Regions from separate parts of the Homo sapiens genome. Here region 2 is linked to region 1. Evidence: fine-mapped expression QTL. A gene starts in region 1. The other region holds a variant in brackets. All regions are shown on one strand. Distances are from middle to middle. Region 1 holds the start of FAM234B (family with sequence similarity 234 member B). Region 2 holds the start of GSG1 (germ cell associated 1).

Region 1 (16,135 bases):
TTGGCTCACTGCAACCTCCGCCTCCCAGGTTCAAGCAATTCTTGCGCCTTAGCCTCCCGAGTAGCTGGGATTACAGGCATGTGCCACCACGCCTGGCTAATTTTTTGTATTTTTAGTAGGCACAGGGTTTCACTATGTTGGCCAGGCTGGTCTCGAACTCCTGATCTCAAGTGATCCACCCGCTTCGGCCTTCCAAAGTGCTGGGATTACAGGCGTGAGCCACCGTGCCCGGCTGAATCAAGCTTTTTTCTGACTCGACCTTTACACGTCCTGTTCTTCAGCCTTTACGTGAACAACTTCTACCCATTCTTCAGGTGTCAGCTTAAGTATCAGTTTCTCAGTGAGTTATTCATTTCCTCACTCCCCAAACTAATCTATGATGTCTCCGTGATTCTTTCTCACAGTACTAGGTTCTTTTCCTTCATTGTGCTTGCCACACTTTGTAATGATATATTTATTTATTGCTTGCTTAATGTCTGTCTCTCCTCTAGATTGCAAGGCCTTTGAAGGAGCTTACAGGATTTGTTTACTCTTTTATATCCAGCTGCTTGAAAGCATTGGCTAGGAATGGCCTCATGAGAAGGCTGTAGTCAGTGGACTCCAGGAGCAGTAACTTGATACTAAGTGTCAACTTTTCCTATTTTGTGTTACCATTCCTTTTTTTGTTTTGTTTTGTTTTGAGATGGAGTTTCACTCTTTTTGCCCAGGATGGAGTGCAATGGGGCGATCTGGGCTCACGGCAACTTCTTCTTCTTGGGTTCAAGTGATGCTCCTGCTTCAGCCTCCCGAGTATCTGGGATTACAGGTGTGTGCCACCATGCCTGGCTAATTTTGTATTTTTAGTAGAGACGGGGTTTCACCATGTTGGCCAGGCTGGTCTTGAACTCCTGACCTCAGGTAATCTGCCCGCCTCAGCCTCCCAAAGTGCTGGGATTACAGGCGTGAGCCACCGCACCCGGCCTTATAATTCTTTACAGATGTGCAGAGATGAAATGGGCAGAGGTAATTACCAGAAATGCTGAGTCCACCTAACAGGAGGGATGGGGAGAAGTGACAGCCATGAGGCATATGTGGAGCATGTGCACACTGCTGAGATTCACATGCAGAGGGACGGCGTTTCCCCAAGTCATGCAGCCTGGGTGCTTGGACTATGACATTGGTATGGAGAAGAGTGGTGAAAGAACATGAGAATATTTGCATTATCCAAAGCAGGGAATATGAGCGTAGGAAAAAAGTTTTATTAATTATAAAGTCCAGCTGGGCAAGGTGGCTAACACTTGTAATCCTAGCACTTTGGGAGGCCAAGGCGGGCAGATCACTTGAGCTCACAAGTTCAAGACCACCATGGGCAACATGGCAAAACCCCCATCTCTACAAAAAACACAAAAATTAGCCGGGTGTGGTGGTGCATACCTATAGTCCCAGCACTCAGGAGGCTGAAGTGGGAAGGATTGCTAGAGCCTGGGAAGCAGAGGTTGCAGTGAGCTGAGATTGTGCCACCACACTCCAGCCTGGGCAATAGAGCCAGACCTTGTCTCAAAATAAATAAATAAATAAAATAAATAAGGTCCTCCCCCTTTTTTTTTTCTAAATTGATTTTATTCTTTTCTCATAATGTGATGGCTATTTATTCTTACATTCACATTTATCCAATACATATCTGGGGCCATATGCTATGCATTATGTAGGGCTAAAAAGATACAAAATTTCACTTCCATTCTTTAAGAACTCAATATTTAGTATGGGAGTTTTAATATAATACACATATTCAAATTTAATATTAGACAGATATTCAAATTTAATATGGTATATCTATTCATATTACAACACACAGCTGCCTATAATACATACTTTAAGATGTGCAGAAAAATGAAGTATTCTAGAACTTCAGTCACGTAGCCAGTGGTAACCTGATTTACTGACTTTTAGAGGATTACTTAGGACTTAACCAGTGAGCTAGACATGCAGAACTGAGAAGTCTCAACAGGGATGTAATCTAAATATGAAAAACACTACAGAACAAGACCTTGTCTCAAAAAAAAAAAAATCTTGGTTATATAAAAAAAAAAAAAAGGAAAGAAAAACACAGTACTGCATAGGTCCTGACTAACCAGAACATGTCTGACTAATCAGCTAGCACTCCCAACAAATGAGAACAAATGTTGGCCAAATATCAGCTACATTCAGCACTAAAATCTGTCATGAATCAAGTACTTTTATAAAAGAGTTTATAGTTTGGTTACAATGCCATAAGTGAGGCAGGGATTACAAATAGTTTTCAATTTTTGAGCTGAATCCAATTGATAGGTAGTGGCTCCCTGGACAGCGGAGTGAGGGATTCTGAAGCTATGTCTGGGCCCACTGTCAGAGTGTGGTGAGTGACATGTGCCCTGGAAGAAGAAAAGACAAATTGGAGCACACATGCCATGTATCTGACGTCACTGCTTGTGATTAAAAGACAGAAAAACCTGCATTCAAATCCTTCTTCAAGTCCTTGGGAATTGTGTCACTTTGGGCAAATGGCTTTATCCATCTCAGTTTACCTTCCATGGAAAGGTTCTGCCCATAGGATGGAGGTGAGACTATAGCCTCCTGTTGAAGCTAACGGCCGCAGAAGGCAGGAAATAAGGGAGGAGGAGAAAGCCTGAGAGTGGAACTGACCCAAGAGGTCTTAGTGGTGGGGAAGATGAAGTGATGCGGCCAACAGCAGAGACCTGGGAGAAGAGATGCATCTAACAGAGCTTTTTGGGGGGGCGGCGGGGGGGGGGAAATGCTATGTGCCTTGACCCCTTTCCCTGGCCCCTTGAATCTTCAGGAAAACTCCCCAAGTCACAATATGCTTGGCCCATTGCATTTTCTTTTGGAAGGCAGTGAAGGGGCTGATCAAGACTGGCAAGACTCCAAAACACTGTCTTCTTTTATAGGTGATGAGTGCTCAGCGAATGGGGGCTGTTACCATCTACACTGCTACTACAGGTCCTTCGGTTGACATGAACATGCCAGAATGAGGGATGGGAGGACCAAGAGCTCATTTGGCCTGGGTGTGTCTGTCCTTAATTACACTGTTCTCAAACATATGTTCCAGCCAGAGGCTTGTTAAGAAGAAGCCTTTGTTTAAATTTCAGGGCCCACAGAGCATTTTATAGTCTAGACTCTAGAAAGTTTTATAGGCTAAAAGTCTGTATGATCTGAGTGAGATGAGCCCTTGTGTTTTATCAAAGGACATTCTGGGAACATAAACCTGTTTGTCTTCATGACAAGCCATGCAACTCCTGGGCAGAGTTCAGTTCTCTGTGAAGAGAAGTGAATATGCCACTGGTACACATGCGTTTCAAACTTCCTGATCCTCACGCAAGACTGATTTCACAGGCTCCTTGACATCTGCATTTAACTCCTAAATGTCCTCTGCTGTGCACCTCTTTCGCTTTTCTCAATCTCACTGCCCTCACTGCTATTTGCTATGACATTTTCTTTTTGCTTTTCGAATCTCATACTAATTACTGCTTCCTGACCCTTTTTGGCACCAGTGTAGCAGAGGGTACTACCCTCAGCTTCAGATAAGTCAGTGGAGTTCAGATTTGTCCATCCTCTGCTGATAGATGTAGGAATGGCTTCCAGAAATCTCTCTGCAGAGGGAGTGAGGGGAGCCTCCTGGGAGAGCTTCAGCTTAGACCCATAAGTCATTACAAGAAACTCAGCTCAGGAACAAAGCCTTAGTCCCTACAGGAGAAAGGCAATCCTAAGGAGAGCGGCGCCTGAACCCTTTCCTACCATCAAGAACTCAAGAACTCAGGTCTGTAATTTACAAAGGCATGGGGTGACCAGTGTCGCAGACACTGGCTAGATGCTCCCCAAACTTGTCTCCTTTTCTTCCTGGGCTCATACCTTCCTGGCACACATACTCTCTGTCTGAATTCTAGCCTAATAAATGTGGGCAGAATTCACATACACCAGCTCCAGGCCTGGCCCATAACACTTCCTGCATGATCTGGGATGCAAACGATCCAGTGGAGGCCTCCGAGGCCCTAAGGATGAAGCAGCTGGAGACAGAAGGGCCTGGGTCCCTGAATGGCTGGGAGGAATAGAGCCCCAGTGCAGTCTACTTGCACCCCCACCTTGACTCTGACATAGGCAGAAATAAATTTTTACACTCTAAAATCATTGGAATCTTGAGGTTGTTTGTTACAGCAATTATCTTGCTCTGGTTGACCTGCTAAGTAAAAATAGAAGCTCTGTCTAATGAAAATACTGCATTCAACCTGAAGGAGTAGCAGCATAGCATTGGCAATTTCCTAATAAAGTGTAATATGAAAAGGAGAGAAAGGCAGTCTTCCCTGGTTTCCTTTGCCCCTCACAGCTTTGACATTTTAGGAGCACTAAAATATGAGGTGGCATTTAGTGAGAGATACAGGAAGAGGCAGCAGTTTTTGAGAGGAGGCAGTTTTTGAGGGGCCTGGCAGCGCAGTGGAACCAAGGAGGAAGGGAGGCGGCCGCTGGTAGATACAGTGGCATTGGTTCCAAGAAGAGGTGGTGAAACCTAGTGGGGATAGTCAGGACCAGCAGAAGTGGCCACACTGTCCAGGGAAAGGCAAGCATTAGATGGTCAGATTTGATCATAAGCCCATGCAGGACACTTAGAGATTCTGAGCAGTACTTGGAGTATTACAAAGGTAATAACCAGCAATATGGGTTCCCTCTATGAGTTATGGGAACTTGAGAAGGTTGGGGAAGAACACTCTCACTGTAGATCAATGTAGGAAAAATAGAAGGTGATTTTCTGACTTCAGTTGTGATTTTTCAGAAAAGTAATTTCTTCAAGCAGGCACAGCCACCAGGCAGGTTAGGCTGTTCATAGGCATCCCGCCCCGGTCACTCTTGTACTTGTCAGGAAGGCAAGCCAAGTTCAGAAGTCAGAGAGGGCCTGGGTGTTTGCATTTTCCACAGTGACCTCAGTGGGTGTTTGGACAACAAAGGTATTCACATTCCACTAGGTAGCTAGAAAGGAACTCACAGGTATTCTCCATGTAAAAGGTAAGGATCCTGATTCATTTGGCAGCTGCTTTGAATTTTTTTCTTTAATTGAAAAGAAAGTACATTAAATTTGAGAAATACTATTCTAAGCTGCAGTTCCTATGTTAAAATGGAAAAAAGTTGTGGAGGGATGAAAGAGATTTCTAGAGGGACAAGGAAGACAAAGTGGAGGAAAGCTCAGGAAGCCAAGGAAGGAGGAATTCCTGGGCATCGGCCTCCCTGCAAAAATCATTCGGGCAAAGCTGGGGTGATTATGGGGAGTGTGCAGATGCCTTAAAGGTCAAGCATTGAAATCTGAGGAGCCGGAGATGCTGCATCTATTGGATGTATGTACACTGACACATGTTTATATGTACACATGTAAGTGTGTACATGCACATGGGCACTTTGGGTAACTACACAGTTTGAAGCAAAGTTTTTTTTTGTTTTGTTTTGTTTTTGAGACAGGGGTCTCATACTGTTGCCCAGGTTGGAGTACAGTGGTTCAATCACAGTTCACTGCAGCTTCCAACTCCTCAACTCCAGTAATCCTCCCACCTCAGCCTCTCAAAGTGCTGGGATTGCAGGCACAAGCCACTGTGCCTGGTTCTGAGACAAAGTTTTTAAATAAAACTTTATACATCTTTATTTTATTTATATCACAGAAGAAGGTACTCTCCCGGAATATACCTTTTCACTAAGAAAAGGAGACAGATTTTTCTTCTTTCTTCCTATCCTGTGTGACCTGGCTATTCCTTTCCACCCAAACTTTCTCCTAGAAACTCAAGTTCTTGTTCTGCAACTAAAATGAACATTTTTCTACATCCCTGTCACATTCACAGGTTATTTTTCTCAGTCTTCATATTTCAGGAATGCGTTCCATTTAGTTAAACTGATATCAGGCAAGCTACTACTGGCTCATTGTGACTTGTAGTGTTGCTCCTTTTAGATGACCTACATAGATGTAAAATATGTTTTTTAATCATGCCTCCAGAGAAGTGGCAAGCAGTAGAAATTTTGGGTATTGTAGAATGTTGAAAGAATTAATAAATAAATACATTACTAAACCATTAAATTACTATGAAATGTATTATTTGTTATTAAGTTACAAATTTTAAATTGTTAAAACATTAAGAAATTATCGATAAAAGAAGAGTGAATACTTAGAAAACACTAAGTGCCAGGCACTGTTGTAAGTGCTTTCTACATATATATTTAATTCTCAGGAGAACTCTATAAACTAGGAACTGTTTTGTCCCCATTTTGCAGATGAGAAAATTGAGGTGGGGAGAAATTAAGCAACTAACCCTCTGCCTGGCATCTAGGAAATGATAGAGTCAGGATTTGATCTCGGGAGGCCTGGCTCCTGGCTCCAGAGCCTGTGCTCTATCAGAGACAATGACATTTTTTTTTTCCAAGGGAAGAAAGGAGGTGAGACTGATTGCTGGAGACTCTCAGATTACTCCCACAGGATAGTCCTGTCTGCAGTTTCTCACGGGAATTAGGCAGCCTGCAAATGAGATGTATCTTGGAGCTTTTGTTGTGACACTCAGAAGTTACATTACCTTTCTATTTCTCAGCTTTCTCTTAAACAAAACAAGGAGAGTGGGACTAGATAGCCTCTAGGATCTGTTCCAGTTCTAAGATAACACAGTATTAGCATTCCTGCACTAAAATGCTGATCACTTGCGTGTGGGAAAGAAGCAAGTCAGTTCTTCCTTCTACACCACTGTGCCTGGTCCTGAGGCAAGCCAAGTTCAGAAGTCAGAGAGGGCCTGGGTGTTTGCATTTTCCACAGTGACCTCAGTGGGTGTTTGGGCAGCAAAAGTATTCACATTCCACTCAGTAGCTAGAGAGGAACACACAGGTATTCTCTATGTAAAAGGTAAGGATCCTGATTCATTTGGCAGCTGCTTTGAATTTTTTTCTTTAATTGAAAAGAAAGTACATTAAATTTGAGAAATACTATTCTAAGCTGCAGTTCCTATGTTAAAATGGAAAAAAGTTATGGAGGGATGAAGGAGATTTCCAGAGGGACAAGGAAGACAAAGTGGGGGAAAGCTCAGGGAGCCAAGGAAGGAGGAATTCCTGGGCATCGGGCTCTCCGCAAAAATCATTCAGGCAAAGCTGGGGTGATTACGGGGAGCGTGCAGATGCCTTAAAGGTCAAGCATTGAAATCTGAGGAGCTGGAGATGCTGCATCTATTGGATGTATGTACACAGTCGGATCCTCCTTCTACACCCTTCAACTAGAAGCTGCAGCGTAGGGTGCTGAGTAGACACCTGTAAAGAACTGGGAGCAATAAATGAGGGTTCGAGCTCCAGGAAACTTCAACTTCTACCTAAGAAGCGTAATAGAAACACTCTTACTAGGTGCCTACTGTGTGCTGTGTGTTTTAAACAGGTCGTATCATTTAATTCTCATTGCAAGCTTGTGAAGTAGGTAGTATGTCTTTAATTAAAAAAAAGCAGCGGCAGCTCAGTCGCCCCAAGGGACTTGCCCAAGATGGCCCAGCTAGTAAGTGATTCAGGCAGGATTCAAATCCAGTCTGCCTGATTTCAAAGCCCACGCACATTGCACAATCCACACCTCCTTAAATATCTCCTTCGAATCATTTTCACTGCAAGCTTACGGGGTATTTTCTCCCCATTTCACTGACGAGGCAAGTGAGACTCAGAGTGGTGAGGTGACCTGCATAGGTAGGGTGGGAGAAAAGCCTGCGGAGCGTGTACTCTGGCTTGGCCTCCCTCAGCTCTGTCCCCAGCAAGCGGGTCCCACCTTTCCCGGTCCCAGCCCCACGCACCGCCGCTCGGAACTACACTTCCCGGCAGAACGCGGGCGCGCGCACGCGCACCGGGGCCTCAGCCATGGCGACCGTGCTGTCCAGGGCGCTCAAGCTGCCGGGTAAGGAGTCGCATGCTTGCGACCACCCAGTCCCCGCCGGTGTTGGAATAAGGGGAGGCGAGGCTCTGGGGGCGAGGCCGGTCGGGCCCTGGCCTCAACCCAGACTCAGCTGCAGGCGCCCGGTGCCGAGGAGGGTGCAGTCCCTTGGGGCTGGGGTCTCTGTGCCACCAGAGGGCGAGAGGGGCGCCCAGCGGGGCAGGGGTCTCGGGCGCGGGGCGAACCCGGAGACGCGCGGGGAGAGGGCGCCGAGCAGGTGTTACGGCGGGGAATGTCAGAACGCCGGTCGCCGCTGTCCCGAGGGGAGGCTGGCGAGAGGAGCATCCTTCCCGAGCGCCGCGGACCCAGCACCGCAGGGACTCCGGCGCCTTCTGTCTTGGCTGGACCTGGGCGGGGGCGGCGGGACGGCGAGTGGCCCTCTGTGGATCATCCCCTCCACCTAACGGCAGCAACGACGCATCCATGAGGCAGGTGGGACAGGTATTTACGTCCCTTCCTAGTTTACAGAAGAGAAAATGAGAGTTATTTGGCTAAGTGAATTGTCCAAGGTCTCACAAGTATTGGGAAAGCTCGGCCTTGAACGTCAGGGGTCTTTTCACTCTAAATCCTGAGCTTTTGATTCCACTTGGTCAGTCTCCAGCTGCCGAGATTAAGCATGGGAAATGATTTGGCACCTATAAGTTGAAGATAATGTATGGAATCTTCTTTAAGGCAGCATTAGGGGTGATGACAACTTCCAGAGCTGATTCAGTACTTCGGGCAGCAGCTCCAAGTTTTTTTTCCTTTTTTTTTTTTTTTCCTCCTAAACCTCCAGAGTAGGATTGTACTGTTAGAAAGTTGATATTTAAATAAAAGTATATTTATTCCACCCAAGTAAATTTTAAACATTAGGCTTTAGAAAAATTGATGGCTCTACCTAGGTAAGTTTTAAGCATTAAGCTATAAACATTTATTTGCTGATAATTTGTATTAGAGGGAAAAGCAGTTGCTTTCATAGCTATCTCTAGAGAGGGCTATTTGGGTTTTGGTTGGATAGCTAGTTTGAGCTTGCAGGGGGATTACAGGGTCCTTGTTCTCAAGGAGCTTCCAGTATGCTACCCTGAAGCGAACCTTGCCATTTGGATGACGCTAGGTTGGATATTAATTTGCGTTTCTGTCCCCAGACTTCATGACCTCAGACAGATTATTATTTTTTTTAATATGGGCTCATTGGAACATTGGAAGGAACACTGATAGCATCTGCCTTGGAATGTGTGCATAACACTGGAATTAAAGGAGAGACGTGGCCCTTTACCTGCAGGATTAATTTTTTACTTTTTTACTTTGTATATCCTTAGTGTAGAATGATGTCCTCCCAGAGGGGTAATAAGATGTCAGACATTTAGCTTTATTTCTTTTTTTTTTTTCTTTTAGAGTCCTTTTTTAAAATTTCAGTGTAGGTCATTGTTATTCTCTAAGAATGAGAATGCATGAAAATCTTGCTTTAGCAACTCTTGAGGTCTTTTGTGTTCTTATGCCCCAAGGCTGTGGTGTTATTACTCCCTGGAGTATTAGTTGTAGGAACTGGTTGGGGTTCCCATAGTCCAGTCCATGGGCCTGTTTGGCAGGCAGCTTGGCCCTGAGCCCTGAGGTATGCTTGATGCTTTTTTAGGCCCAGATATAGTAGGCATGTGTTCTTTCATGTGATGTGGGTTTTAAGAAAATGTTCACTTGCGTCTACGGCCATACCACCCTGAACGCGCCCGATCTCGTCTGATCTCGGAAGCTAAGCAGGGTCGGGCCTGGTTAGTACTTGGATGGGAGAAAATGTTCACTTGCGTTTTTCCTTGTCTCCTTCTTGCCCTTTCTTCTTCCCTCCACCCAAAATACTATTTTTAGTTTTTGCATTAGGTACAAGTTGTTTTTATATAGCTCTTTTTGGCTCCCCTGTAATTGGGGTCCTGAGACTGCTGTCCTGTTTGGGCTACTGTGTTATGTTCCTGTAGTTAACATCCCCACTGTTTTCTTTGTTTGTTTTTTTGTTTGTTTGTTTGTTTTTTTGAGACGGAGTTTTGCTCTTCTTGCCCAGGCTGGAGTGCAATTGTGTGATCTCGGCTCACCGCAACCTCCGCCTCCTGGGTTCAAGCAATTCTCCTGCCTCAACCTCCCGAGTAGCTGGGATTACAGGCATGCACCACAATGCCCAGCTAATTTTGTATTTTTAGTAGAGACAGGGTTTCTCCATGTTGGTCAGGCTGGTCTGGAACTCCCGACCTCAGGTGATCGCCTGCCTTGGCCTCCCAAAGTGCTGGGATTACAGGCATGAGCCACTGCGTCTGGCCCCAACATCCCCACTGTTTTCATGTGTGAGGAAGTCAGGTTGGAGTGGTGGCTGAGAGCATGAGACAGGCTCGGGTTCAAATCCAGTCTTTACCTAATTAGTTACTTAATCTCTTTAAGCTTTAGTTTCCTCATCTGTAACAATAACATTATTATGGAACATTCACTCTATGCCACACATTCTACTACATATTTACCTCCTAGGGTTATCTGAAATAGTAAAGGAGATGGATGTACTTAGGAGGTCTAGTAACCTCTGACATATGTTAATTAGTCAGTAAGTGTTAGCTGTTGTCATCAGCAGTGTGCTCATTTATGAATGTGATACCTGAAGGAAGGCTTGATGTAATAGTGAGCTATTGACAGATCTCAGCAGTCTTGTTATGAAAGAGCAGTTTCGCTAAGCTCAAGAAGGAAAGATGTTTGGCTCACATGCATAAAATGAGGTTAATTAGTAGCAGAAGGCCAATATGACATTCATAAAGCCTGTAGGGCAGCTTATCTCCTAAGTATATATATATTTTTTTTCTTAGGCCATTTTAAAGTTTGAAGGTCAAACACTGGAGGGAATATCAGAGCAAAATGATTTTTTATGATTTATTTTGTTTGTGTAACTTAGTCTTTATATGCCCTTGGGTAAACTAACCCATGATATGAATTATTTACCTTTAGTTGCAGTAGAGTGTATTGTATAGTATATGCACAGTATAGTGTATACTATAGTATAGTATATGTTATAGAATAGTGTATGTTTTAGTATATTTCCTGAAAACGTTTGGGTATGGTATAGTTGCATCACTTTCCTATTTGTGTTTTCCTCTCTACCATTTTGGAAATCCTATTATATTTAAGCAGCATCTTCAGTCTTCCTAAGAGGAAAAGCAATAGCTGTGGAAAGCGCATTTATAATGATTTGTTATGAAATCAGTGCCCTCTCCCTTATTCTTTGAAAACCTTTCATTCATTAAAAATTTGGGTGGTGGCTGAAAGTAGCAAGGAAGCGAGTGAGTGCTAAGTGCCCTAAGCTTGGAAGCTGGATTTGACGCCTGGCTCCTCAGCCTGAGTAGGACTTAAGGCAAGTTGGTGGACTTCTTTTAAGGCAAGTTGGTGGACTTCTTTTAAGGCAAGTTGGTGGACGTCTTTTACTTCACGCTCTCTTATTGTCTTTCTGTAAATAGATAGAAAAAATATTATTAAAGACTTCTCTAATCAAAACTTGCAGTCTGTAATCCTTAAGCGGAGGTTTGTTTTTGCAGTATCTGAAAAAAAAATTAGTATAAAAGTATTTATTCCTCTCAAAAGGCTGGCCAAGAACTGGCCCCTAGTCTTCTGTGATGTAAAGAAAGCATAGGAATATGATAACTCAGAGCGCTTGTGTGCTTGTCTTTATATTTCGGTGATGTCATGGCTGGGTCAGAATGCTTGGACATCAAATTGCATGTTCTTTCTCTGAGGACTTTTTAGATATTGCTCCGCTATCTTTTAATAGTGTATGTTACTATGGAGAAATCTTTGCCTGATTTTTGTTCCTGTCATTAGTGACTTGATTCTTTTTCCTTTGGCCTGGCTGCTTATAGGATTCCTTCTTTGTCCTTGAAGTCCTGTGCCTTTACTAGGATATATTTCAGTATTGATTCTTCTGAATCAGTTTTTCTTGGGACTCTGTGTACTCATTATTCTGCAGTTTTAGGTCTTTATTGTAGGAAGTTTTTTTTGGCAACTCTTTAAAATACTGCTTTTGGTTCTTTTCTGTTTTCTGTTATCCTCTTTTCTGTTATCCTCTTTTCTGTTATCCTCTTCGGTCATGCATATATTGGCTCACCTTTGTTGTCAGTATCTATCACGTTGTTTCTAGTCTTTTTAAAGCCTTGATTTTTTTTCCACGGGATCATATGTAGCCCGTACAGACTTTGAAGCCAGACTGGTTTTGAATTGTTACCTATCACTTGCTGTTTATCTGTGGGCCAATGTATTAGTCTGTTTTCACACTGCTGATAAAGACATACTTGAGACGAGGCAATTTATAAAAGAAAGAGGTTTAATGGTCTTACAGTTCTGTGTGCCTAGGGAGGCCTCACAATCATGGTGGAAGGTAAAAGGCACATCTTACATGGTGGCGGCAAGAGAGAATGAGAACCAAGCGAAACAGGGTTCCCCTTGTAAAACCATCAGATCTCGTGAGACTTATTCACTACCATGAGAACAGTACGGAAGAAACTGCCCCCATGATTCAGTTATCTCCCACTGGGTCCCTCCCACAACACATGGGAATTATGGAAGTACAATTCAAGTTGAGATTTGGGTGGGGACACAGAGCCAAACCACATCCGCTAATTACTTAAACTTCCAAGCCTCAGCTTCCTCATCTTGAAAGTGAAGACAGTAATGTGTCTACCTCACATAGTTGTTATGAAGATTTACTGAGATAAGAATTTTTTTTTGAGACAAAGTCTTGTTCTGTCGCCCAGGCTGGAGTGCAGTGGCATGGTCTCGACTCACTCTAACCTCCGCCTCCCAGGTTCAAGCAATTTTAATGCCTCAGCCTCCTGAGTAGCTGGGGTTACAGGCGCCTGCCACCACACGTGGCAAATTTTTGTATTTTCAGTAGAGACGGGGTCTCGCCACGTTGGCCGGGCTGGTCTTGAAGTCCTGACCTCAAGTGATCTGCTCGCCTTGGCCTCCCAAAGTGCTGGGATTACAGGCGTGAGCCAGCACCCCTGGTCTGAGATAAGACATTAAAAGGGCTTGGAAGAGTGTAGGATAAGTGTTCAGAACTGCCAGCTGTAGTTATTTCCATTACATTTTGCTTGATTTTCACTAGTCTATTCTTTTTATGTCTCTGACTCTGTTTTCAGCAATATCTGTTCCTTTAGCTGATTCCAATAAGGATTTCTTTTCTAAAACTGGTTTGTTATTTTTTCCATTGTTTTCCTGAGTGCTTATTTCAGAGAAGACGATTTTCCTAAATTTCTCAGACTCCATGGGGAAGTATATGTTCATTATTTCTTCCATCTTGTGGTGTGATTTGTCCAGCATTTGTTTTTCAGCTAATTGTTTGTTATGTTTCGTTGTTACTTCTTTCTTGAATATTTGTAGAGCTTTGTGGTATCTTGTGGAATGAGTACTAAACATGGCTCCTTTCTGATTATTACTTATATTTAAATGGGGCGGTTGTTTGACAGCCTGGCTATTGCCAAAGGGGTGATCTAGGGCCGTTGGAAGCAAGAATGTAATCCAGGCCTGTTAAGTCAGCTGGCTCCCCACCAGCACTCTTCCTGTGTGGATGTCTCTATCCTGGCTAGGAGGAGGCTTTGCACAGGACTGTAGGCTGCTGGTTTGGCATTTCCTTCATTGACTTTGTTTTGCCAGTTATCAATTTATTGCATCTGAACTCCAAATTCACCTTTGTTGACTGATTTGTGAAAGTGGGTCTGAGCCCTTTTAAATATCAAGTTTGTCCTGCCTTGGATATTGTCTCTCAGTCCTAGGGGACCTTTTAGAGTTCTCTTCTCATCTTTATGTTTACTCTCCTGTCATTGCTTAGTAATTTTTTTTATGTTAAACTTGTCCTCTTTGAACTATTGTTTGGCTTCTGTATCCTGACTGGGCCCAGTCAGAGTGATTATGCCCAGTTACTTTTCTAACCTGCCGTCCTGACAGTGTGCTTTTTGTGAAGATGTCAGCTTGTACTTTTCCTCATTCGGTCCTACTTGGATTTGATTCTGTGGTGTTGAATGGGGCTCATTGGTGCTTCTGTGACCCCAGACTTTGTCTTTCCAAGCAAGCAATTACTGGTTTGGCTATATTTGTGGAACAAGGGAGGTAGTATAACTTGTTGGTTAGAACAACAAATGGACTCTGCAGTCAGATGCCTGGGTTTGAATCCTGGCTTTTCTTTTGGCTAGTTGTGTGATCTTAGTCATTTTACCTCTTTAATTTTATTTTTCTTGTTGATAAAATGGGGGATAATAATAATAATAATAATATCTACCATATAAGATTGATGTGAGGATTAAATGAATTAACACATGCAAAATGCTTGGATCAGTGCCTGGGACAGTAGGCACTCAATACACTTCCAGTTGTCATCATCGTCATCATCTTATTGTTGTCATGATTATTAATTCTGTGAACTCTGCTCATTGCTGAAGATCTGCAATATATGTGCAATATATATCTGCAAGATGTATTTGCCTACTCTTACTGAGCTTTCTCAATTGAGTACAAGTTTCAGTGCATTTAGTTCATAAATTGTGGTTTGGGAATGTGGCTGTTTCCTATTTTGTGTTCTATTTTTATTTTTCTGTATTTGTTTTCCTGGTTTTAGGGAAGACAGTGTGACAGAAATGCCCACTTTTGCCATCATTAACTAGAAGCATGTAATCTTGCTAAACAGACCAATCTGACAGCAGCTTTTTTCTCAAAGAATGCTTCAAATTGTTTTTATAAATTTCTTACAGATTTTATAAATTCCTGTAGCATATGCTTCTCTTCCTCCCTGCCTGTGATAGTACATAGCATGATAAAAATGAATTTCCTTTAAACTGTTTTGCTGGGAAGTGTTTTATTAATGATTTCACTTTGACAAAGGTGCTGTTTTTAGCCTGATATGTTTGTTGCAAGGTGGAGACTGACTAGCAAGATTGAATTTGATGTCGATGCTAAATTTTTCACTTGGTGCTAAAAATCCAATTGCACAATTATAGGGTGGCTTAAGCATGTGTTCAAAATGCTTGGAAGTTTTAATTGAATCAGTAGGTGATGTGAATGCCAAGAAAGCTCTCAAGATCTTACGTTATAGAAATTGAATTGTTGTTTGCTATCTGGAGTAGGTAGGAAATAGCTCTGCCCTCCCTTTCTCTGGTCAGACTGTACCTGGGATTGTATCTAGTTCCAAGAACCATATTTTAAAAAGCACAGACATATCACATTGTGTCCAGAGGAGAATGACCAGGATGTTGAGGACACCTGAAACAATGCTTCTTTAAGTAATGGGTTGAAAGAGGTGGAGGTGTTTAAGTTGGAGCTGAGAAGAGTGGGGGAGGGCACTGGGAGATACAATACTAGCACCAGTGATGGTAATGATAATAATAGAAGCTAAAATTTATTGTGTGGCTATAAGCCAGGCACTAAGAAGCAGACATATATTATCTTATTTGATTCTCATCACAATCATATGAGCTAAAAAGAATAATTATTCCATTTCATAAATAGGGAAATTGATGCTCAATAAAGTTAAGAAATTTGAGATTACATAGTTCATAAGAGATATAGCCAGGATTTGGCTTGATGTTTGATTGTGAAGACTTGAGCTCTTAAATACCATATCATATGTCTCTTATGATTGATACCTTTGAGTGTTTGAAGGACTTACATGTGAGAGAGGGATCCCAGAAATTAAAACTAGGACAGATAATTGGCAACTTCCCAGAAAAAAATTCTTGAATCAGTGTAAAGAATTGGTTTCTAGATTGGAGGCCAGTGGATTCCCTAATACAGGTTACATTCAGGTGTTTGCTAAGTAACTGGTTGATAGGTCTTTGTAAGTAGCTAGTTGTAAGTTTGGGATAGGGGTGGGGATAGATTATGTGATCTTTAAGGTCTCTTGCTGTGCTTTCTCAAGTAACTCTAGAGTTGAGAACTCTGTGTGCTTTCCTGTTTTTCAGATATATATATATATATTTAAACATTTTAAATTGTCAAAAAATACATACACCATAAAATTTACCATCTTAACTATGTTAAGTATACAGTTCAGTATTAACTGTATATGCACCCAATCTCTAGTACTTTTTCATCTTGCAAAACTGAAACTCTATACTTACTCAGTAACAACTTTTCCTTCTACCTCCAGACCTAGGCAACAACCATTCTACTTTCTGTTTCTGTGAGTGTGACTACTCT
Region 2 (16,135 bases), 59 kb after region 1:
AGGAAGTGCGTAGGCGCCAATGTATAATCAGTAACCCTTACATCAGCATATATTAACAGAGTAACCCAGAATTAGCATAGGCTAGGAAGGACAACAGATCGATGAGGCAGGTGCACTTCTTAAAAGAGCCAGGTACAAAATAGCTGTAGACTGCATCCTTTGAGCAATAGGAGGGGAAGCCGGTTACCTTGGCCATGGTCAGCGTCTTGCAGCTTGTCTGGAAGAACCGAAGGATGCCATCTGCACTCCAAGTCCCTTTGGTTTAATGTTGCAAGAATGCAAACTGTCTTCCTACCCTCCTCCCTCTCCTCCTACCCCTCCCCTTCTATCTCATATTCTTTGGAGTGCCTCATGATTAAATGCTGCCTTACAGGGAACACGGGCATTTAATAATTGACAAGGCAATCAGGGCCCAGCTGTTCTGGGAGATTACACCAGAGAGCTTGCCAATGGGGATCTGGGATTAAGCACAAAGAAGCAAGGACCTGCAATTTGCAGAGGAAATTTTCTTTAAAAAGTAAATGATGGTTTAGTTTCCACTGCCTGCCATTCCCTAGGTAACTGGTGTGAATGGATTGGGCTTGGATTTATGACAGACGAAGATATGGCAGGTCACCATCACTGCAGAAGTTTACCTTCCCTCGAGTAGGGTTTCCTATCCCTTTGAAGAAACTCTATTCTCTGCAATGTCGGGGCCTCATGGAGCCATGAACAGGAAATAGCTTCCTTGTTCCATGGGTGGTCTCCACCTTCCAGTTAGAACATTAGAATAAGTACTATTGCCGGGCGTGGTGGATCACGCCTGTAATCCCAGCACTTTGGGAGGCCTAGGTGGGCGGATCACAAGGTCAGGAGATTGAGACCATCCTGGCTAACATGCTGAAATCCCGTCTCTACTAAAAACACAAAAAAATTAGCCGGGCCTGGTGGCGGGTGCCTGTAGTCCCAGCTACTCGGGAGGCTGAGGCAGGAGAATGGTGTGAACCTGGAAGGCAGAGCTTGCAGTGAGCCGAGACTGCGCCACTGCACTCCAGCCTGGGTGACAGAGTGAGACTCTGTCTCAAAAAAAAAAAAAAAAAAAAGAATAAGTACTATTAAGTATCTCCCTCTACACATGGAATGCTGAGTGAGAATGTTGGCTGGGGATGTGGCAAAGATGCAGATAGAATAGGATTGGAGATAAATGAATTCCAGGATCTGGAATGCCATGGCTATTTACCATTCCTCTCCCAACCTTCAGGCAAAGGAATGACAATATTTTATATTTCAAAAAAGAGTTTCTAAAATGCTGAAAAAGTAATCTAAGAAACCAGTAAGGGGTCGTTTGCATATGTTCTTGCCACCAGTCAGCCAGAAGTACAAGTTGTTCTTTCTCTCCTCAAAATTGTACAAATAGCTGGGCGCGATGGTTCATGCCTGCAATCCCAGCACTTTGGGAGGCTGAGGCAGGTGGATCACTTGAGGTCAGGAGTTCGAGACCAGCTTGGTCAACATAGTGACACCCTGTCTCTACTTAAAAATACAAAAAAATTAGCCAGGCATTGTGGCAGGCACCTGTAATCCCAACTACTTGGGAGGCTGAGCAGGAGAATCTCTTGAACCTGGGAGATGGAGGTTGCAGTGAGCCGAGATTGTGCCACTGCACTCCAACCTGGGCCACAGAACGAGACTCCATCTTTAAAAAAAAAAAGTGCAAATTAATTGGGACACCAATGTTGAAAGAGATTCTGCCGCTGTTTGTGAGTCCCTAAACCCTGCATGGACTTTCATCCTCCAAGCCTTTGCTGATGCTCTTCCTTCTGCCTGGACTGCCTTCAATCTCTTTTTACCTGGTGAATTGCCTGCCTTTCAACGAAATTAGTCTAAAAAGTCATCCACTCTTTGAAAATGTTTCTTTTCTCCCTAGGACAGACAGCTCCCTCCTCATGATCCTTGTCACACTATATCTTGCAACACTTATTTTTTTTTTTTAATTTTAATAGAGACAGGGTCTCACTATGTTGTCCAGGCTGGTCTCGAACTCCTGGGCTCAAGCAATCCTCCCACCTTGGCCTCCCAAAGTGCTGGGATTACAGGCGTGAGCCACTGCACCCGGCCTTCTCACAACACTTTCTGTATTCCATTATAACTACTGCATTTGTCTGAAATGTAACTTCCTCAAAGGTCTCACTTTCATTTTAGAGCAGTCGTTCTCAGTTCTGATGAACTGAGTTCAGAACAATCTTTGGAAGTTTGGAAAATATGCCGATTCCTGGACCCACCCTGAGATTTCATAGTAGTTCTGGGTGAGGCCCAGGAATTGGTAATTTTAGAAAGTTCTTAATATATACCCAGGGAATTCATGTAAAATGGCACCTGTTCAACTCATTTTGGGCTTACATTTAATAAAACCCTCTGTATCCGCCCCCGGCCGTTCCTCCCCCTCTTCCAGACTAGCCATGAGGTCATGTTTTTCCCATTCTATATTTGTGCAGTTCGTTTAGGGAATCAAAGGCAGGTTCTTCTGAACTTAATTGTTTGAATTAGTCCACGTTCTAGCCAAATGAGTTGCTTCGGATCCTGCTTTTGTCACCTGTAATGTCTGCTCTCCTCAGACTGATGTTAACAAGCAAATTTGATAAACATGTGCCATGTGCAGGTACATTTTCTGCATCGCCCAAACAACCCTTTATTTGTTGTGACAGAACTCACTCTCCTTTGGAAGGAGAAGCAGGAATTTTGTGTTCTTTGTTTTTTTTTTTTTTACGGTTGCATTGGCGGTTGGTTTCCTGGCTAGTAGTTTCATCACAACGCTGGGTGGCGCTATCTCCTCGTCGTTTCCGCTTCCGTCACGTGCTTCCCCCACCAGTCGGCAAAATGTGGGTGGAAGTGGCTGCTCCTCCCCATAGGATCCTTTTATTTATTTATTTTTAATTTGGCATCCTCCCTGCCTGCTAATCTACAGAATGCCGTGTGTCAGCTCTATGGAATTCAGGGCTCAGGCTGAACTTTGGGGCATCCAGCCACTCCCTATAGGAGTCTTGTAGGATTGTTTCATGTAGCCCATTTTTTTTTTTTTTTTTTTTTTTTTTTTTTTTTTTTGGGCGGCCAGTTCCAGCTTCAGTGACTCAGTAGATCCTCAAATACTTCCCATGGGAAATACAACTCCACGGTATCAGAAAATACAGTTAGCCAATGTTTCCTGATGAGTTTTGTGCACATTTTTCTTGATTGTATCTTCAGTCCCTTTCCACCCCAGAACAGTGAACAATTATTTTCCCCTCTCTGTGCTTACACCCTTCAAATACTTGCAGACACTTCTCATAGCCCGCTTGAGTCACTGTTTGGCATGGCCTGATGTCTTTGGTTTTTATTGCCTCTGCTCATAAACTGCACCCCCTGTGCCTTAATAGCCTGAAGTTCGCCTTCTCCAGGGAAATGGGGATGGGAGTGGCAGACTCTTAAGTGTGTTATATGAGGAGGCTCAGGGGTGGATTTAGAGTGAAGCTAATGAAACTTCAGCTTCCATGTCCCCTACTCACTCCACCTCTTCTAAAACCTTGTTACCTAATTTACACTTGTAATTGTGTACTCTTTTTCTTAAAGAGGGCCTCCGAAATTATATTATTTTAGGCCTCCACAAAGCCTGGGTCCACCCCTTAGGAGGCTGTGCATTTTGTGTGTGTACTTGGCTGCCTGGCTGCTGAATGTGACCAGTCTTGATTCCCCCTCCCCAAGGACCCTGGGCCACAACGTCTAATTTCCTCTTTTTGACAAAACATGAGTTTCTCTGCCTGGCCACAAACATCAGAGCCCAGCATCCCACTCACTTCCTTTCATTGTAATTTGGGCATGTTAATATTTTTTTCTTCCTTTTCCTCTCTTAGAACAGAAGAAGTAATTGCTAGTCAATGTGACATAAATATAATTAGGTTCGGCTCAGAAGCTCATGACTCAGCACAGACACGAAGATTCCACACCTAAAAACAGTATTTAGCTCTGGCATGTTGGACTGTGACTATTCCAAGATGACCTCCGCAGGAATATATATGCACTTCACCATTTATGACACCACAAGGCCAACAGTGGGGACTAACCCATATTTGCTGAGGTCCTCAGTCACTGTTTCCTGTACTGGACAGAACCACATTTACTAGGCTGTGCATCAAGAGAAAACAGTGGTGTTGGGGCACCTACACATACTTCGTAAATGGGAATGCAATTTATTGTTTTGTGAGTTCACTGCAGGTTAGAAGTGATTAAATGACAAGCGTGAATGCTGAGCCGGAGAGCAGGTTATATACCACACCACTTCTCTAATGCCAAGGCCTGGGGCTAAGGGATCCGGTGTTTTTTTTTGTTTTTTTTTTTTTTTTTTGTTTTTTCTTCATGTCATCCATACTGGCATCTTCCTGGAAAGGTTTGTTTGCCCTCCCTGGCAGGAGTATCTCTGTCCTCCCAGGAGCTAGATTTCTGACCCACGCGCCATTAGCTCCTTTCTGTTACTCAGTAGACAAAGGCTGGAGTGGGTTGTAAATGTTTCGGCTATCGCCGGTCTGATGACCATGCATGCCCCTGGCCCTGTTCTTTGCTTCTGCATGTCCTAGCATGTGCCTCTCTCGTGTAACTCATCACATGGCTTACTTGTCTGTCATGCTCATTTGACTTTAAGTTGCTTGATATAGTAGCAGCTATGTTTTATTCATTGTTGATCCTCAGAGCCTAGCAGTGTTTTAACATCTATGAATGAATGAATGAATGAATGAATGAATGAATGAGATTTGTAATGCAAAAAGGTTTATGGATACAATTAGAAATCCTGAATGAAGATGTGAATAAAGAAGTGTGTCCAAACAGCCTTCTGTTGCTAAAGGAAACAGGACGCTTCTGGATTCACGTATGTAAGAGCAGCGAGAAGCTACAAAGGAAGCCCTGGGTCCACAGGCACACCCTAAGCCTTTCCAGGCAGATGCACCCAGAGTTTCATCAAACAGATTCTCTGCCAATCCATTTCCTCTCACCTGTGGAAACATTCCTGCTTTTAAATGAGCAAAGCGCAGAAAACAGTGATGATCTCATGAAATAGTATATTATCTTTAGTGCACAGAGATCAGGAGACAGATTGCTCAAAAACCAGTGACAGATTGGAAATGTTATGTCCTTTTCCAAGCTGGGTGGACCCCTACTGATTAGAGCCATTTTGGATAATGTATCTCCAAACTTCTGAGCTTTTGCTGCTCTAACTGCAATGTTTACATCAGTGCCTGACCTTATACTCTTTCACTGATGAGGACAAAGATGGTCTTCACACGGGACATTTTCACATTTGTTTCCCAGCCCGGAAGGGAAGAGTAATGCCACCAAAATGCCCGTGCTTAGTGTTCAAAATGACTACATCACTGTAGGGCACTTAGCTCCGGGATTTATTCTCAGCTGTAACCACGTTTAAGGGGCCACATCACCTCAAATGGTCGCACAATCAAATGACTCTAGTCTTCCTAACGTAGGTCCCGAGTTTTGGGAACACTTCAATTCAGTGGGAAGGACCCTGGAAAAGCGTATCGGGGCCTCGTTCTCGTCTTTCCCTTTCCGCCTTTTAATGGAATTGTTTGAGGACTTTTGCTAATGCAGTCATTTCCAGGAGAGGAAGCCGCCTTTCTTCCAGGCCCCAAGCAGCTGGAGTGAATCAGAGGGGCAGCCACATCTGCACATCCTGTGGGGCAATCGCTCACGCGCGGGTGACGGCGCCAGCAGGCCGGCTGGGGCCGGGGGCGCTTGGGGACCGCGGGGCGGGGCGGGGGCGTAACGGGTGGGGCCTCTCGGGGGTGCCTGGGCCGCGCCATCTCCACTTCCGAGCGCGCCCTCCCACCCTGATGAGTAACGCGCCGTCTCTCCCGTTTACTACGGCGCCCGGTCGCCTAGCAGCGGGGCGCGTTGCCGCGGCGACAGGCCGGCCGTGTTTGGCATTGTTTGCGAGGCC[C/T]CGCCCCGCGGCCGCCAACCACCCATGGCTTCCTGACCGGGTCGGGCGGGGGTACCCGGGCTGTTTCTTCCTCTGGGTCTTCCTCCGTCGGTTGAGAACGGTGTCCCGGGGGCCCTCCCAGAGAGCAGGGACTGCCAGGGCAGGCCAGGGACCCGGCGAGCCGCGGAGGGCGGGGCCACATGTGTCCCGGAGCTGGGCCGGGGCGCTAGGCCACCTGAGGCGCGTCCCCTCTGCCGCCTGGCGAGGCTGCGCGGGAGGGCGGAGAGACTGGGTAGTCGGAGGGATTCCTTACACCCAGGCCGGTGGGCCAGGGCTCGGGATGTGTCGAGCTGCTGGAGTCCAAAGTCAGGCATTTCCCTGCCTCTGCCCGGTAAAGCTATGGGTCCCAGGCTCCCGTTCTAAGGGAAGGGGATGTCTGCGTCTCATTGGGAAGACCCCAGGGCGGGACTTCACCACCCAGACCCCTCAGCAGATCCGAGTTCTATTTACGACCCAATGCACGACTGCACTGAGGATTTTGGCCAAGTTACTTAACCTCCCAGAGGGTTAAATTTACCCTCAGGGGTAAATGAGGGCAAAGAGTTGTCCTTCTTAGTTCTGTGAAAATCGAAAACAGGTAGAAGAAGAGTGCCTCTAAGCAGAAACGAAGGGGAAGTGCACCTGTGCTACCAGCAGACACCTTGCTAGACCCTTCAGACATCTTCCTTAATCCTCACAACCAGCCTGAAAGGGACGTGGCATCCCCATTCTACAAGTGAGGGTTCCGATTCGGAGGGTTTGACTTGCTCAAGGCCACAAAGCTAGTAAATGGTAAAGTCAACACTGGCAATCTTTGAGGACTGTTCGCCTGACTCATCACCAGGCTGCCACTCAGTAAAAGCCAAGGCACAGTCACCTTTAACAAAATGTACAGATTGCAGGCCAGATTTATGGGACCTCCTGCAGATTGAGGCAATGGATTAAGTGTACTTTATACTTCTCAGGTACATATTAGCAACCAGACGCTCCCATATTCCCTCTGTGTCTCTCCTGGAAAACCACTGATAAAGAACAATAATAAAATTTATTCTAAGCCATGACTGGCTTTTTCTGTCATGTTCACATCCACTTCTTTGTCATCTATTCACTTGGGGCTGCTTCTGAATTAGGGAAGCTGCCTGAACCCACACTCCGATGGCTCTTCAGAACCACCAGCTCAGCTCTGCAGTCCCAGAAGTGCCTCTTAAGTTATCCTGTTCTTTCCTTTGAGATCCTAACTTCCAGCTGGTCAACAACATACCACATTGCTCCCTGTGTTGGAGTGTATGTACGTGTGTGTGTGTTTGTGTATGTGCTAGTTTGCTGGCTAATTGCAAGCTTCATTTTTCTCTCCTGAGAAAGGCAAGATATCTGAGAATGAACACCATTTGTTTTTTTAAGTAATCCTTAGAGCTGAAAGTTGGGAGGCTGGTCGTTTCTGAATGTAGGTCAAATGCTAAACAAGCCGCAACTTCTCTGCAGAGTGTGAGAGTCTTCCTGGTCTGGAAGGATCCCTGAAGATTCTGCTGGATTCTCTGAGACGAGAAAGAGCTTGACTGTGTGTTGTCCTTCCCAGTTCCAGATCAGAGCTGCCTTCCAGCAGGACCTTGGGGATGCCCCACTGTTCTCTGGCATAGAGCTTGATGTCTGCTCTTTCAGCTCACTGGGGTGACACACAGCTCTATTGTTGCCACCGCTACTGGGCCTTTACCAGGCTCCAGATTTTGGCAACGGGAATAATGCAGATGAAAGGAAAAAAGGAGAGGCATAGGGAGCCCTGGGAACAGAAAGGAGAAGGAAGATGATGAGACAAGGGAAGAAGAAATGGAAGTTTTAATGAAGGAAGATGAAAAGGTAATAGGCCAAGGTATGGACATACCAGTTTTATCTATGAAAACTGGGCTGAGTGACACATTTTCATTCCATTTTGTAGAACCCTATAGTGCATTTCCAAGCTCTTTACTGTGACCATGTGAAATACATGAAATTGATGAGTTAGTGTAACCTGTGTTACAAATCCAGCAGTAAAGATATGTGTATGAGATGTTCATGAGATTTCAAAATCACTGTACCTACCTCCTGGGTGAGGCAAACATTTTGAGTCAGTTGAGAGGGATCGCTCATTCACTCTTGCAGCGGGAAGGCAGAGAAGTTTCAGTTTATCTTCTGTTCTGTCTCAATCAGTTGGGTAGAATGAGTGTTTAGCGTGAGGATGAATCAGGTCCCCTCTTGCCAGCAGAGGGGTAAGGTGGTGTGTGGTGGATTGGAGAGGATGTCCTGAGGGCCAGACACCAGCCAGGGCGGGGTTGGGTGACCCGTGGGGTTTATTCTGTGATGTCACAACGGCAGTCAGGGGTCTCCCTGTTGCTCCCTCAGCCTCCTCCCATAAGGATTGGGGGGGGTCATGCTGGGTACCTACCAGTGGCTGGATGTCTTCTGAGGTCGTCCAGATCAGTGCTTATCTTATTGTGCATAAGATTCACCTGGGGAACTTAGTCAAGTGCAGATCCTGACTTAGTCAAGTGCAGAGTCTGGGATGGCTCTCACGTGAGTCCAGCCAGACCACACTGAGTTGTGAGACTCTAGACCAGTGCTGTCAAAGCAAAATGCAATGTGGGCAGCATATGTCATTTAAAATTTTCTGGTAGCCACATTAAAAAAAGTAAATTGGACACACATACTGTGATACAGCAATCATATGTTATACAATACTATGTTTAAAATGTAGCCCTCCCCACACAATAAAGTTGGGTTTAATGAAAAATATTTTATACTACTTTCATTTTAAAATTAAAATTTAGTGAATTCAAATTACATAAAATTAGAAATTCAGTTGCTCAGTTGCACTATCCATATCATAAGGGCTCCACAGCCACACATGGCAAGTAGCTACTGTATTGGATGGCACAACTCAAGGCCATTCCCTGAAAAGGTAACAATGTACAGAAATTACCATTCTAAAGGGCTAGTATCTGGAAACCCAGCAAACATTCACTAACATCATTTTAATGAATACATAATTAGTGTTTGGGGACTGTTAATATGGAGGCATAACTCTCGGAGACTGGAAGAGGGCCTCATCCAGGATTCCAGCTAACAGTCTGGATGGGGCCCTCTGCCCTGTGAAACCTGTCACACTCAGTCCTCCTCTGAGCTTTTGCCAGGGTTCCCCTCACTGGGATCCCTTCCTTCTCCTTGCTGCCCTGCCTAAATCTTACACAACCTCAGGGCACATGATTCCAGTCTCACTACCTTGTGGCTCTAGCCCTCCTTACTCCCCATTTCCTCTTTGCTCATACAGCATGCCTGCTTTGCTTTTGGTGTGTTAGTCTGTTTCTCTCGTGAAATTCTAAGCTGCTTGAGGACAGAATCTGGTTTTTTACTTCTATCGTGCTTAATATAGTGCCAAGGGCATAGTAGCTGCTCAAGAAATATTTATTATTTTATTTAATGACCTAAACTACCTAAGGAAGTATCTAAGAGAGAACATCGGATCTCGAAGTGCCAATAACTTCCCCAATGGAACAACATGCCTTATTTTTGGCACATCTTAAATTGATCAAGATGTCCGTTATAAGTTAATTTATAAATTTAATACAAATAACCATGAGTATTTTAAAAGACCAACACAAGTTGATATTAAAGTTTATATGGGAAAAAAATACACAAGACTAGCTAGGAAAACCCTGAAAAGGAAGAGCTCTGAGGTGGTGCTAGCCCTAATTGATATAAAGCATACTACAAAGCCTCTATGATTAAAACAACATGGCACATGTATACATATGTAACAAACCCGCACGTTGTGCACATGTACGCTAGAACTTAAAGTATATTAAAAAAAACAAAAAAACCAAAAAAAAACAATGTGGTACTGGTGCATGACTAGACAAACAGGCCAATGGAAGAGAACAGAAAGTCTAGAGATAAACACAGCTATGTATAGACTTCCAGTATAGGACAAAGGTGATATCTGTAATCACTGGGGCACAGATGATTTTTTTAAGAAATGTTGTTGGGATAAACTAGATAGCCATTTAGAAAAATATAAATTATATTTATTTAAAAATCATATACAAGAATAAACTCTAGATGGACTAGAGATCTGAATTTTAAAAATGAGATTATGGCCGGATGCTTAATCCCAGCACGTCAGGAGGCCGAGGCAGGAGGATAACTTGAGCCCAGGAGTTCAAGACCAGCCTGGGCAACACAGTGAAACCTTATTGCTACGAAAAGTACAAAAATTAGCTGGGCGAGGTTGTGAGCGCTTGTAGTCCCAGCTACTTGGGAGACCGAGGTGGGAGGATTGCTTGAGCCCGGGAAGTTGAGGCTGCAGTGAGCCATGATCCTGCCACTGAACTCCAGCCTGGGCGATGCTGGGTGACAGCGCAAGACTGCCTCAAAAAAAGAAAAAAAAAAAAAAAAGAGAGAGAGAGAGAGAGAGACATATGAATGACCCTAAATATATGAAAAAATGTTCAACTTCACATATAGTAAACATAATGCAATTTAAAACTAGAATGAAATATCACTTCTCATCCACCAGACTGACAAAATTATAAAGTTTGACAGTGCAATCTGTTGATGATGCTGTGGGGAACAGACGCTCTCACTCATTGCTAGTGGGAATCCCAAATGGTGTACCCCTTTGGTGAATTTGGCAATATCTAACACAACTGCATGTGCATCCCATCACCCAGAAATCCTACTTCTAGAAATTTACCCTGAAGATACACCTCCAACAATAGGCATGAAGCTATTCATTACAACATATTTGTAATTGTAAAATATGGAAACTACCTAAATAAGAATTGGTGGAATTAATTATGGTTCATACACACAATGAGGTACTATGCAGCTATAAAAAACAAAGCAAACAAGGGAGATTTCTATGAACTGATATGGAATGCTAAGTACATAAGAGGATATATAGTATACTATCTTTTGTGTAAAAAAGAAAAGAGGGGAAACAAAATGTACATCTATCTGCTTATTGTTACCAAACGAAGTTCAGGAAGGATAAACCAGAAAACAATAAAGTTGGTTGTTTACTGGGGGTGGGGAATGGAAATGATTCTGGAAGGAGTGACACTTCTCTGAGAAGTTTTTATGATATAGTTTTGACTTTTGGGAGCATGCTAATGTTCCACATGTTTGAAAATAAAATTATAACAAGTTGAGAAGGAAAAGAAAAGCCTGAAACCAAAAGCAAATGGAAACAAGTGACCTCAGTGGTATTTCAGATAAATACTATAACCACGCAGAAAGGGAAAAAACAAAAGAAAGAACAAATCCAAGGAACTCTTGAATACAGTGCTTGACTATCTACTGGTCAGTCTTGGGTAAAGTTGAGTGGGGGAGAATTGCAAACAACTCCTGAACTCTTTTTATTTATTTATAACTGTAAAAAATTTATTTTATTTTAGATTCAGTGGGTACATGTGCAGGCTTGTTACATGAGTATACTGTGTGATGCTGAGGTTTGGGCTGCTAATGATTTCATCACTCAAGTAGTGAACATAAGTGAACATGGCATCCGATAGATAGTTTTTCAATACCTGCTGCCCTCTCTCCCTAACCCCCTTTAGAATTCCCAGTGTTTATTGTTCCCATTTTTGTGTCCATGTGTACCCAATGTTTAGCTCCCACTTATAAATATGCTGTATTTGGTTTTCTGTTTCTGCATTAACTTGCTTAGAATAATGGCCTCCACCTGCATCCATGTTGCTGCAAAGGACATGATTTCCTTCTTGTTTATGGCTGTGTATTAATAGTATTCCAGGGTGTATATGTACCACATTTTAGGAATCTAACCCACCATTGATGGGCAGCTGGGTTGATTCTGTATGTTTGCTATTGTGAATAGTGCTGTGATAAACACACAAGTACAGGCTGAGTGAGATGGCTCACACCTGTAATCCTAGCACTTTGGGAGGCTGAGGCAGGAGGATTGCTTGAAGCCAAGAGTTCAAAACCAGCCTGGGCAGAAAAGTGAGACCCTCTCTCTGAAAAAAATAAACAAACCCCTCAAGTCAGCTGGGCGTGGTGGCCCGTGCCTGTAATCCCAGCTATATGAGAAGCTGAGGGAGGATGGCTTGAGCCCAAGAGTTTGAGGCTGCAGTGAGCTATGATCATGCCACTACATTCCAGCCTGTGTATCAGAGCAAGACTCTCTTAAAAAAAACAAAATAATACAAAACCCCAAAAAACATACAAGTGCAGGTGTCTTTTTGATAGAATGATTTATTTTCCTTTGAGTGTGTACCCAGTAATGAGATTGCTGGGTTGAATAGTATTTCTAATTTTAGTTCTTTGAGAAATTTCCAAACTGCCTTCCACAGGGGCTGAACTAATTTGCATTCCCAGCAACAGTGTATAGGCGTTCTCTTTTCTCTACAACCTTGCTAACATCTGTTATTGTTTGATTTTTTGGTAATAGCCATTCTGATTGGTGTGAGATGGTATCTCATTGTGATTTTGATTTGCATCTCTCTGATAATTAGTGATTTTGATAATTTTTTCATATGTTGGTTGGTGGCTTGTATGTTTTCTTTTAGAAGTGTCTGTTCATGCTTTTGCCCACTTTTTAATGGAATTATTTGTTTTTTTTTCTTGTTGATTTGTTTCAGTTCCTTATAGATTCTGGATATTAGGTGTTTGTCAGATGCATAGTTTGCAAATATTTTCTCCCCTTAAGTAGGTTGTCTGTTTACTCTGTTGATAGTTGCTTTTGCTGTGCAGAAGCTTTTTAGTTTAGTTAGGTCCCAACTGTCAATTTTTGTTTCTGTGGCGTTTGATTTTGAGGACTTAGCCATGAATTCTTTGCCTAGACCAATGTCTAGAAGAGTACTTCCTAGGTTTTCTAGGATTTTTATAGCTCGAGGTCTTACATTTAAGTCTTTAATCCATCTTGAGTTAATTTTTGTATATGGTGAGAAATAGGGTCTGGTTTCGTTCTTCCGCATATGGCTAGCCAGTTTCCCAGCACCACTTACTGAATAGGTTATTCTTTCCCCATTGTTTAATTTTGTTGACTTTGTTGAAGATCAGTTGGTCGTAGGTATGTACCTTGGTTTCAGGGGTCTCTATTCTGTTCCATTGCTATGTGTTCATGTTTTGTACCAGGTACCATGCTGTTTTGGTTACTGTAGCCTTGCAGTATAGTTTGAAGTTGGGAAGTATGATGTCTCTGGCTTTATTCTTTTTGCTTAGGATTGCCTTGGCTATTTGGGCCCTTTTTAATTCCATGTGAAGTTTGAAACAGTTTTTTTCTAATTCCGAAAAAATTAATGTTGTAGTTTGATAGGGAATTGAATCTGTAGTCTGCTTTAGGCAGTATGGTGATTTTAATGATATTGATTATTCCAATCCATGAGCACTGCATGCTTTCCCATTTGTTTATGTTGTCTATAATTTATTTTAGCAGTGTTCTATAATTCTCTTTGTAGAGATCTTTCACCTCCTTGGTTGGATGTATTCCTAGGTTTGTGTGTGTGTGTGTGTGTGTGTGTGTGTGTGCATGGCTATTGTAAATGGGATTGTGTTTTTGATTTCTTGATTTGGTTCTCAACTTGAATGTTATCAGTGTATAGAAATGTTACTGATTTTTGTGCGTTGATTTTTTTTTTTTTTTTTGAGACGGAGTCTCGCTCTGTCACCCAGGCTGGAGTGCAGTGGCATGATCTCAGCTCACTGCAGCCTCTGCCTCCTGGGTTCAAGCTATTCTCCTGCCTTAGCCTCCTGCAGGTAGCTGGGATTACAAGCATGCACCACCATGCCCGGCTCATTTTTGTATTTTTAGTAGATACGGGGTTTCACCATGTTGGCGAGGCTGGTCTTGAACTCCTGACCTCAAGTGATCTGCCCACCTGAGCCTCCCAAAGTGTTGGGATTACAGGCATGAGTCACCACGCCCAGCCTGTGCATTGATTTTATATCCTAAGGCTTTGCAGAAGTTTACCAAGACTAGGAGTTTTTTGGTAGAATCTTTAAGGTTTTCTAGGTATAGTTTCATATTATCAGCAAAGAGATAGTTTGACAACTTCTTTTCCTAGTTGGATGCCTTTTATTTCTTTCTCTTGCCTGATTGCTCTGACTTTGGGTAATGTGTTGAATATGAGTGGTGAGAGTGGATATTCTTGTCTTGTTCCCATTCTTAGGGGTTTCCCATTCAGTATTATGTTGGCTGTGGGTTTGTTTTAAGTGGCTGTTATTATTTTGAGGTACGTTCCTTTGATGCCTAGTTTGTTGAAGGTTTTTATCATGAAGGATGCTGGATTTTATCAAATGCTTTTTCTGAATCTATCGAGATGATCATATCATATGTTTTTTGTTTTTAAGTATGTTTATGTGGTGTATCGCATTTACTGATTTGTGTATGTTGAGCCATCCTTGCATCCCAGGAATAAAGCCCACTTGATTGTGATGAATTAACTTTTTGATGTACTGCTGGATTCAGTTTGCTAGTATTTTTTCAAGGATTTTTGTATCCATGTTAATCAGGGATATTGGTCTATAGTTTTCTTTTTTTGTTGTGTCTTTGTCAGATTTGGGTATCAGGATGATACTGGTTTTGTAGAATGAGCTAGTGGGGAGTCCCCCCTCCTTGATATTTTGGAATAGTCTCAGTAGGATTGGTACCAGCTCTTCTTTGTATGTCTGGTAGAATTTGGCTATGAATCCATCTGGTTCAGGGCTTTTTGTGGTTGTCAGTTTTTTTAAATTATTGATTCTATTTAATTACTCATTCTTGGTCTGCTGAGCTATTTTTAGTGTATATACCTTATTCATCTTGGGGTAGGTTGTGAAACAATTGTGGAACTATTTTGGATGTATTGTGGGATTGGGCACATGAATAAATGCTGTTGAGAGCCAGAGTTCTCATTATGGGAAAGGAACATCAACATATGGAATGGAGGAAGGCAAGAAGGAACCTATGGGTTCGATTGGAATTAGGGGCATCAGTATGAAGTCATGATTTCTTGTATTTATATATGAAATACACACATGTACATACATGCATGTACACATAAACACGTATGCATGTATATTTGTCTATGTATATATGCGTATTATATTTGCATACGTATGTGTAAATAAATGAGTATTTTTTTTCTAGTTTTATTTACTAAAAGGACTTAGAAAGAAAGATTCCCCAGTAGCAATGAAAAACTAGCACTCAAATCTTGGTCTCTAATACTAAGAGGAACTAGAGCTCCTCAAATAAATGTCCAATTCCAGAGCCTGGATAGGGCAGGTAGAAGATGAACCTGGAACATCTTGATATGCCAAAAAGTAAAGAAATGCCTATGAAAAAATGATGGGGACATTTCACAGGGACACACCAGCCCCCTGAAGGGATTCCTACTGGCTAAATCTGGTACAATTTAAGCACCAAAATAATTAAACACAGTATTAAATTATAAGCCACTGGAAAAAAACAGGACTTTGTGAGTCCATATGGATGATAAATAGATAGGCAAATAAATATATACATAAATGAATGAGAAGAGAAGACTCTTGCTTACTGTACAAAGCAAGGAGCTGACTGGTGAATATGGAGGGTGTGCTGAAGTTGGAAGATCGTAATTTTGCACCTATTCTATTAAATATGAATTTAGACACGATCATCAATGGATGCTAAATACAGAGGAACATTTTAATGGGGAACAGGCCAGTTGCATGGTCTTAAACTGTCTCCCCACAGATTGCTTATTAGTTGTAAGGGAAAAAGTAGCCCTACAATAGGGAACTCAGATAACACTTTACACAGTCAAGAAATCGAATAACAGCTTGACCAGGTAATTAAAATTGACTTCAGCTTGAGGAGGCAGATGGCCATTGTGTGTCTCCTGAGAAGGGCACAATGTACTTATGTAGTATTCAGGCAGTGACTGTATAACCTGAGTCTAAACGCAAGAAATCATCATACAAATTCAAAATGAGTAAATACTCCATTTTTAGAAGTTGGATTTGTATTCTTCAAAAATGTCAATGTCAAGACAATATTAAAAGCATCTAGGGACCCCCTATACAGTTCTCAACTGTTTTCTAGGGGTAGATGTGAATACATCCGGAACATCTGACATTAGATCCTTTTGGGACTATAGGCTCAGGTCCCACTGTGGCTTCCAGGTGTTCATTGCTGTTGATTTCTTG

The links. PIP is the estimated chance that this variant, and not a neighbour inherited with it, causes the effect.
Region 2: its variant is fine-mapped to the expression of FAM234B in monocytes after R848 (Quach 2016, PIP 0.95).

What each region holds. Positions count from the first base shown.
Region 1 is chr12:13,036,526-13,052,660 of GRCh38, forward strand. It overlaps FAM234B (family with sequence similarity 234 member B), which reads left to right and starts at 7,856. Exons shown (of 13, transcript NM_020853.2): 1 at 7,856-7,915. The coding sequence starts at 7,879.
Region 2 is chr12:13,095,412-13,111,546 of GRCh38, forward strand. GSG1 (germ cell associated 1) reads right to left here and starts at 8,256. Exons shown (of 7, transcript NM_001080555.4): 1 at 8,054-8,256. The coding sequence starts at 8,101. It overlaps LOC105369666 (a long non-coding RNA gene), which reads left to right and starts at 6,019. Exons shown (of 2, transcript XR_931369.3): 1 at 6,019-6,329; 2 at 6,576-7,035. RefSeq lists silencers at 5,635-5,864, 6,145-6,194. The variant C/T (reference allele first, on the strand shown) is at 5,960.